2 linked regions of the Homo sapiens genome follow. The gene in region 1 interacts genetically with each later gene. Each region holds a gene or a part of one and is shown on either strand. Other genes may lie near its edges. The genes, in order: NLE1 and ATG10.

Evidence for each region.
Region 2: of NLE1 (region 1) and ATG10, changing one suppresses a phenotype caused by changing the other (phenotypic suppression), as found in Homo sapiens cells (one large-scale study listed by BioGRID).

Annotation. Positions count from the first base shown.
Region 1 is NC_000017.11:35,132,304-35,136,121, forward strand, and holds part of NLE1 (notchless protein homolog 1), read right to left. Parts: intron 3,149-3,818; coding exon 2,946-3,148; intron 1,196-2,945; coding exon 1,036-1,195; intron 939-1,035; coding exon 868-938; intron 147-867; coding exon 134-146; 3' UTR 1-133. UniProt on the Homo sapiens protein: Plays a role in regulating Notch activity. Plays a role in regulating the expression of CDKN1A and several members of the Wnt pathway, probably via its effects on Notch activity. Required during embryogenesis for inner mass cell survival.
Region 2 is NC_000005.10:82,251,454-82,255,271, forward strand, and holds part of ATG10 (ubiquitin-like-conjugating enzyme ATG10), read left to right. Parts: intron 1-1,108; coding exon 1,109-1,206; intron 1,207-1,860; coding exon 1,861-1,972; 3' UTR 1,973-1,976; intron 1,977-2,614; 3' UTR 2,615-3,818. UniProt on the Homo sapiens protein: E2-like enzyme involved in autophagy. Acts as an E2-like enzyme that catalyzes the conjugation of ATG12 to ATG5. ATG12 conjugation to ATG5 is required for autophagy. Likely serves as an ATG5-recognition molecule. Not involved in ATG12 conjugation to ATG3.

The sequences.
Region 1 (3,818 bases):
GGCCACACGCATTCTCAGGTCCCCACTGGTGGGGAGGGTGTGTGCACTGCCATCTCAGCCTTTGTTCTCTGGCAGGGAAGGCAGCTGGCAGAGGCCGAGTCGAGGTGGGGGTCAGAGAGAACTTCGGGCCGTCTCATCTCCTCCATCTGTGGAGAAGGGAAGGGTGTCAGGATGGGGATTCCACCTTAGGAAAGGGAGGCCGTCATATAATCCCAGTGTCAACAGACGGACGGCCTGTGGTCCACCCTCAGAGTCACCAAGAGCCAGGTGACCGTCCCTGCTCTGCCCACCCAAACTCAGGCTGCCCACTCACTGCCTGCTGCCACCAGGACCTCCACCCAGGGCCTGGCCCTCGGGATGCCCACCAGCAAACAGTCACAATCCCTTATAAGCACACAACACTTTGTCTTCCAGAGTGTTGACCCTCCTATTTTTGATCCTGTCTGTGAAGGTTTGATAATTCCCAAGAGACTGATTAACCAAGTTCTCTGTGATTACTCCATGGCAGAACCAGGATTTGAACTCAGGTCTTGCGACTCTGAAGTCTAGTGACAGAAAGACCTGGATGCGCCCTCTACAAGGTGTCCTGTGGCCCCTGTTGTTCCGGTGGCCCTCCCACTTGCCCACTGACAGAAAGACCTGGACGCGCCCTCTACGAGGTGTCCTGTGGCCTCTGTTGTTCCGGTGGCCCTCCCACTTGTGGCCCTCCCACTTGCCCACTGAGAATCTGGCTCCACACGCCTCCTCAAGACAGTCTGAGCACCTGGACGGCCCTGCGGAATTCTATGCTGTAAGGGAAAGTGTGCACAGAAGGACCTTAGGGGTAGGAGGGCTGTGTATGCCAACCACCACTTCCCCCACACTCACATCCGGAGGCATTTGTCCTTCCCACCACTTGCCACTCTCTGGCCATCTGGACTCCAGTCAACAGCATATACCTAAAGGGAGGCAGAGGAAGGCAGGTGGGGTGGTGAGAGGGAGACAGCCAGCCAGGCTCCAATCCCAGTCCCTCCTTTGCCTGAGGGTTGGCCCTACCTCATCCGCGTGGCCGGGCAGGTCCATGGCCAGCTTCTGGGCCTTCACATCCCACACCTTCAGTGTGCTGTCACTGCTGCCGCTGACCAGGAGCCGACTGTCAGCTGACCACGCAATCTGGTACACGGCAGCCACGTGGCCGCGTAGGGAAGCCAGGTACCTGGTCCAGGAGAAGACGATGATGGATTTTAGTCTGAGTTACATCTTTCAACACGTCTGAAGGGTCCCCTACGCTCATGGCAGTGGTTCTCAACCTCGGCTGTCTGTTAGAAATACCTGGGAACCTTTACAAAATCACACTGCCTGGTCCCCATCCCAGACCATTTTTAATCATTACCAGTCATTACAATTTGTAAAACTTCTCCAAATGAGTAGCTTCTAGCATGCCTCTTGCTTGCCCTCCATACCTGCACAACTTTGCATGCCTTAGACTCCAACGTGGCCATCTGCTTAGCCCATCTGCCTGTCATCCCCCCAAACAGCAAGTGCCTGCTGACAGGTGGCATGGAGTAACAGTGGGCCCACTGAACTTTCACGTCAACACAGTCTAGCTGTTTCTCTTTGGACAAACCATCAGGCCTCTCTGAGACTCATTTTCCTTATTTTAAAAAGGAACCCAATTACCTATCTTAAAGGGTTGCTGTGTGAAAACACAGTGACGTCACTAACGCAGAGGTCCCCCCTTCAGCCCTAACAAGGTTTCCCTGGCTCTTTTTCTCCCCCTTGCCTGTGCCTTTGCCTCTCCTCTAATCCGATTAACCCCAAGAGCACTGTGCCTCATCACACCAAGGGTTCCCATACTTGAGTGGGTAGCAGAGTCACCTGGTAACTTTGTTAAAATGAAGAATCAGATCCACAAGGTCTGAGTTGGGGCCAGGACTCTGCATTTCTATCAAGCTCCCAGGTGATGCTGATGCCGCTGGTCTGTGGCCCACACTTTGAGGAGGGCCAAGTAACAATTGTACCACAAGCCTACCTACCACCACTTCACCTTCTCCAGGGCTACAGCCCTACCTCTTCAGCAGCTAGCTCTAAGATCACTTCTCTCCTAAGACATAAACTAGCATTTTTTTTTTTTTGAGACACAGTATCACTCTGTTGCCCAGGCTGGAGTACAGTGGTGTGAACTCGACTCACTGCAACCTTTGCCTCCCAAGTTCAAATGATTCTCCTGCCTCAGCCTCCGGGGTAACTGGGATTATAGGCACGTGCCACTATGCCTGGCTAATTTTTGTATTTTTAGTAGAGACAGGGTTTTGCCATGTTGGCCAGGCTAGTCTCGAACTCCTGAACTCAGGTGATCTGCCTGCCTTGGCCTCCCAAACTCCTGGGATTATGGGCATGAGCCACCACGCCCAGCCTGAACTAGCATTTTTAGTGACCACTTAGTGCGGGTCCTAAACATACTGTCTCATTAAATCCGTGTAACTAGGCTGGGCATGGCGGCTCACACCTGTAATCCCAGCACTTTGGGAGGCCGAGGCAGTTGGATCACTTGAGCTCAGGAGTTCAAGACCAGCCTAGTCAACATGGTGAAACCCCGTCTCAACTAAAAATACAAAAATTAGCCAGGCACGGTGGCGGAGGCCTGTAATCCCAGCTACCTGGGAGGCTGAGGCAGGAGAATCACTTGAACCCAGGAAGCAGAGGTTGTAATGAGCCAAGATCGTGCCGCTGCACTCGAGCCACTTGAACACCAGGTGACAGAGTGAAAGTCATCTCTAAAAACAAACAAACAAACAAACACCTTGTAACAAAGCTGAGAGGTAGGGGGTCTGCATATTACCAAAGAGGAAACAGTGGCTTAGAAAATCCAAACACCTGCCAAGGCCATACAGCTAGTAAGTGGCAGTGCCAAGCCCCTCCCACCATTCACTCCTTACAGAGAAGCAGTACCCACCCCTACTCACTTGCCCGTCCTGCCATCCCACAGCTTGATGGACTTGTCAAAGGAGGCACTAGCCACGATGCGGGAGTCAGGAGAGAAGAGCACCTGGTTGATGAGAGCTTGGTGTCCTGTCATCCGAGTGAGAGGCTTTTTGTCCTCTGCTGGGGACCACAGGAATAAGGTGAAGTCGTCGGAGCCAGACACCAGCCTCTCTGGACCCTGGCCCTAGGGGAGGCAGAAAGCACACTGTGTTGGGTGTGGTCTCAGAAAGAAGGAGGAGGGCCCGACTTTGGCAGCAAGCATACACCCTGATTACTCAATGCCAGGGACAGAGAGAGGCCAGCGCTAGGAGCAATGAGGACTGGCTTGGCCACTCACTCGCATGTGACCCCAGGCAAGTCACTTCATCCAAAAGGAAAAAGAAACTCTACATGCATGTAGAAAAAAATTTTAAGATACATAATTACAGAAAAAGGCACAAAATAATGTGTTAAAAGAAGGATTTTATGTATGTATGCATGTGTGTGTGTGCTTATACATATATACTGTATATAGACACGTGTCTGTATATTAAATCTCTGGAAGGTGATTCAGGATACTGGTGGCACTGGATGCTACAATAGAGACGGGAGACTCCGCGATCTACCTTTTGTATTTTTTGAACGTGAATGTGTGAACAATCTTAAACAACAAATTAAAGTAAAAAAGAAGCATGTTGGAAATGTAATAAATAGACAAGCAAATAAACTAAACAAAAAACGAAATAAAATGATCTCTAGCACATTAGTATTTTAGGATTGCAAACTAGGATTATGAAGAACAACTTTTTGGAATAGGTACATTCTGAGCTGGGTCTAGAAGGGAGAAGGGTCTGAGAGGGTTTTAGTGATTGGCT
Region 2 (3,818 bases), on another chromosome or scaffold:
AAACTTCAGCTTTTCTAGGTTAGTTTCACAAATAGGGAGGTCTGGCATGCTGAACCTGCATTCCCACATGGGACAGTTGGCTGGAGCAGAGTAGCCAGCATGGCCTTGGATGGGTGCACTCGGCAGTTTCTCACGGGCCCCGTCATCTGCTGGTGTATTTAGCTGGCATTATCCCCTTAGGTCACCTGCTTTGTCTTCATAGGTATTTGAGTTTGCAGTGTTGGTATAATGGTTAATCCACAATACAAATAATCAATAAATGTATCATCAATAATAGTGTTTTTGTTGGTAGAACTTGTGCACAGATTACCCACTACATAGAAACCTCCTAGGGCTCCCCATTGCTTGCCAAATGATGTCCACGTCCCTAACTTGGGTATGGTCTGACCTATATCTTATATCCAATTACTACCTTATAAAAGAAACAGAGTTACATTTCAGGCTTTTAACTTATAAAAACAGCCCTGTAGGCTTGGGAGAGACAGAAGGAGAGAAATGAGGAAAAAGAAAAACAAAAACTCAGAGACGGAAAGAGAGAGAGAGACAAACAGAAGTAGAACAATTTAAATAGTGCAGGCCATCTCCTCCCATCCCTGGTTCTACTCGTGGAACATGTGCCCACTGGCACTGGATACATGTAGGCTTGAAACAACATGTTGACAAAATTTGTGTAAAGAAATATGCAAATGATTTTGAGTCTCTTACCATTGACAAAGAGGTGAATAAAATGAATTGTTTAGGTTGTCAAACTACTGAGCTTTGTGAACATCCTTGAAGAAAAACTGAAGAATAATGATAGGCCAAAGAGAAACACTGGCCAACAGAGAGGGAACTGATAAAATGCAACTACAGTTTATATTGTGTAAACAAAAATGGGTGCCCTGCTATACTCGACCATACTGCTTTATCAATGAATAGTCCTTTCTCACCAACTTCTTCTGATGTTTGGATTATAAATTGTTTTTAAAAATAGAAAATAAACCTGTATATTAATTCAATAACTTGGAATTTGAGACAAACCTTTATTTTAAAGGAGTAAACCAGATAAATTATTTTAGCCTTTTCAAAGTAACTCACACTGATCCTGGACCAATTCTGATTCTTACAGGAACATCCAATACTTGGGCAACCCTTTTTTGTACTTCATCCCTGCAAGACGAATGAATTCATGACTCCTGTATTAAAGAATTCTCAGAAAATCAATAAGTAAGAAACACCATCAAGATACATTGGCTTCTACTCTGATTTTAAAAGTGTAAATCTTTTTATGTGACTCTAAATGCTAGGCTAAAAAAGAAATATTAATAATAATAATGGCTAACACAATGATTTTTAGGATATGCTAGATGCTGTTCTAAGAGTTTTAGATACAGTAAGACATTGGATTTTTGCAGCATTCCTATGTGCTAAGTACTATTATTTTGCCCAATTTACAGAGGAGGAAGTTACAGAACAGAGGAGTTAAGCCACTCAAACAAGGTCACACAGCTAGTTAAGTGGTGGGATTTGAATCTAAGCATTTTGGCCTCAGAACCATGCTCTTAATCACTGCACTCTGCTACCTTAGTAAGTGCTGTAAACTGTAAGGGTAAAATTTGAATCATCAAGGGAAGTCAGGAGCCAGTACCTTACCTCATTCTTCAACTACCCTAATGAGGGATCCTTACAGGCTCTCTGGACCTTAAATTCTTGTCAAGCAATGGGGCTGGCATTCAGAAATGCTGAGATTCCAGGTGGTAGGTACAAATCTTTGAAGAAAGCCTCACTTTTGTTATTGTTGGTGACCAACTGATGTTCTACCATTCATCCAAAAACTACAATGGAAACGTTAGCATGGCCTGTATTTCACTTGTTTCCTAGGAATGTCAACTATATCACATCATGGCTGAGCATTGTAGGGCCAGTTGTTGGGCTGAATCTACCTCTGAGTTATGCCAAAGCAACGTCTCAGGATGAACGAAATGTCCCTTAACAAGGTAAAAGAAAAGCCTGGATTTAATGTTTTGCCGTTACAAAGATCAATGTCTCCATTGCATTTAGACTCATCCCACCAAATGCAAAATTTGCTTTCATCTTTAGTGGGCAAACCCTGACTTAATTTTTAGTTTTCCAATCAGTCCCCTACCAAGTTATTTAGGACAGGGATCCCCAAATCCCAGGCCATGGACCGGAACCAGGCCTCACAGCAGGAGGTGAGCGGCAGCTGGGTGGGCAAGCAAGCGAGCATTACCACCTGAGCTCTTCCTCCTATCAGATCAGCTGCAGCATTGGATCTGCATAGGAATGTGAACCCTATTGTGAACTGCGCATCTGAGGGACCTAGGTTGCGCGCTCCTTATGAGATTCTAACCAATGCCTGATGATCTGAGGTGGAACAGTTTCATCCTGAAACCATCTCCCATTCGGTCTGTGAAAATGGTTTTCCCTGAAACTGGTGCCTGGTGCCAAAAAGGTTGGGGGCCACCAATTCAGGAAATATTTTACTTTGCTGTAAGTAGCATGCACTCAGTGACAGGAATGGATAGTTTTATTTTAGTACTGATATTCTTAAATAAGTCTTTACTGCTCAGTTATTTTTCTTTTATTCTCTTGGCTTTTGTTTTATGTTCTTCAGATTCTTCTATTGAGTTTAGGAATTGCGGCACGAAGAATGCCAAGAGTTTACCTGGCCAGCCCTGGCTTTAATAGGACTGATACCATGGAATATTTCATCTCACCAAGATGTGACATGGATTATTTTTCCCTTGGACACAAATGTCTACAGCAACTGGTGTTTGATAGGCTGAATGTTTAGAAGAAACACTTCAAAGGGATACATCATGGCCAGGCATGGTGGCTCACACCTGTAATCCAAGCACTTTGGGAGGCCAAGGTGGGAGCATCACTTGATCCTGGGAGTTCGAGACCAGCCTGGGCAACATGGTGAAACCCTGTCGGTACAAAAAAATACAAAAATTTGCCTGTTTATGGTGGTGTGTTCCTGTAGTCCCAGCTCCCCAGGAGGCTGAGGTGGGAGGTTGGCTTTAACCCAGGAGGCAGAGGTTGCAGTGAGCTGAGACTGTGCCACTGCAGTCCAGCCTGGGTGACAGAGCCAGACACTGTCTCGGGGAAAAAAAAAAAAAAAAAAAGACACATCACTATAAATAGCAAAAAAACAAATCTAACTTATTAATACTAGGAATACCAACATTATTAGGGCACTTGCAGGTTATTCTTTTCTAGGCCAAGTACTTCACTTCCATTTGTCTGACATGGAGATTGAGGGAGAAATGTATTTGTGTGTTCATTTTAATGTAAGATATATAAAAATTAAATTACTGGATTTACCTGTCCCTGAAACTGGTGTTATAAACATGACCTATCTTAAGTGATTTTCCCACAATCAAACTCAGGAACAATAGATTATTTCTGTTTTACTCCAAAAGAGAGAGAGAGAGTGAGTGTGAGTGTGTGTGTGTGTGTGTGTGTATGTGTGGGTGTTTGTGTAGATAGTTGTAAAACAAAGAAAAAACACAATATTTTACTGTGAGATAATATGTTTTACCAGCAAAGTGTGGCATAGTAATTAGAAGTTTTCTAAAAAGCTATAGGAGATATTTAAACATTAAAATTTCTTTTTGACCTATAGTAATAAAACAATGGTCATTTTACCCCTCTGCTTCTCAACCCCACAGCTGCTCTGCTGTACTCTTTGAGGGCTCTTGAGCGAGTCTTCATGTCCCTGAGACTTATTTTCCTCATCTTTAATTTGAAACTAACAAGCTACCTCATAGGGTTGCTGTGAGAACCACATGAGATCATTAATGCATGATAAGATA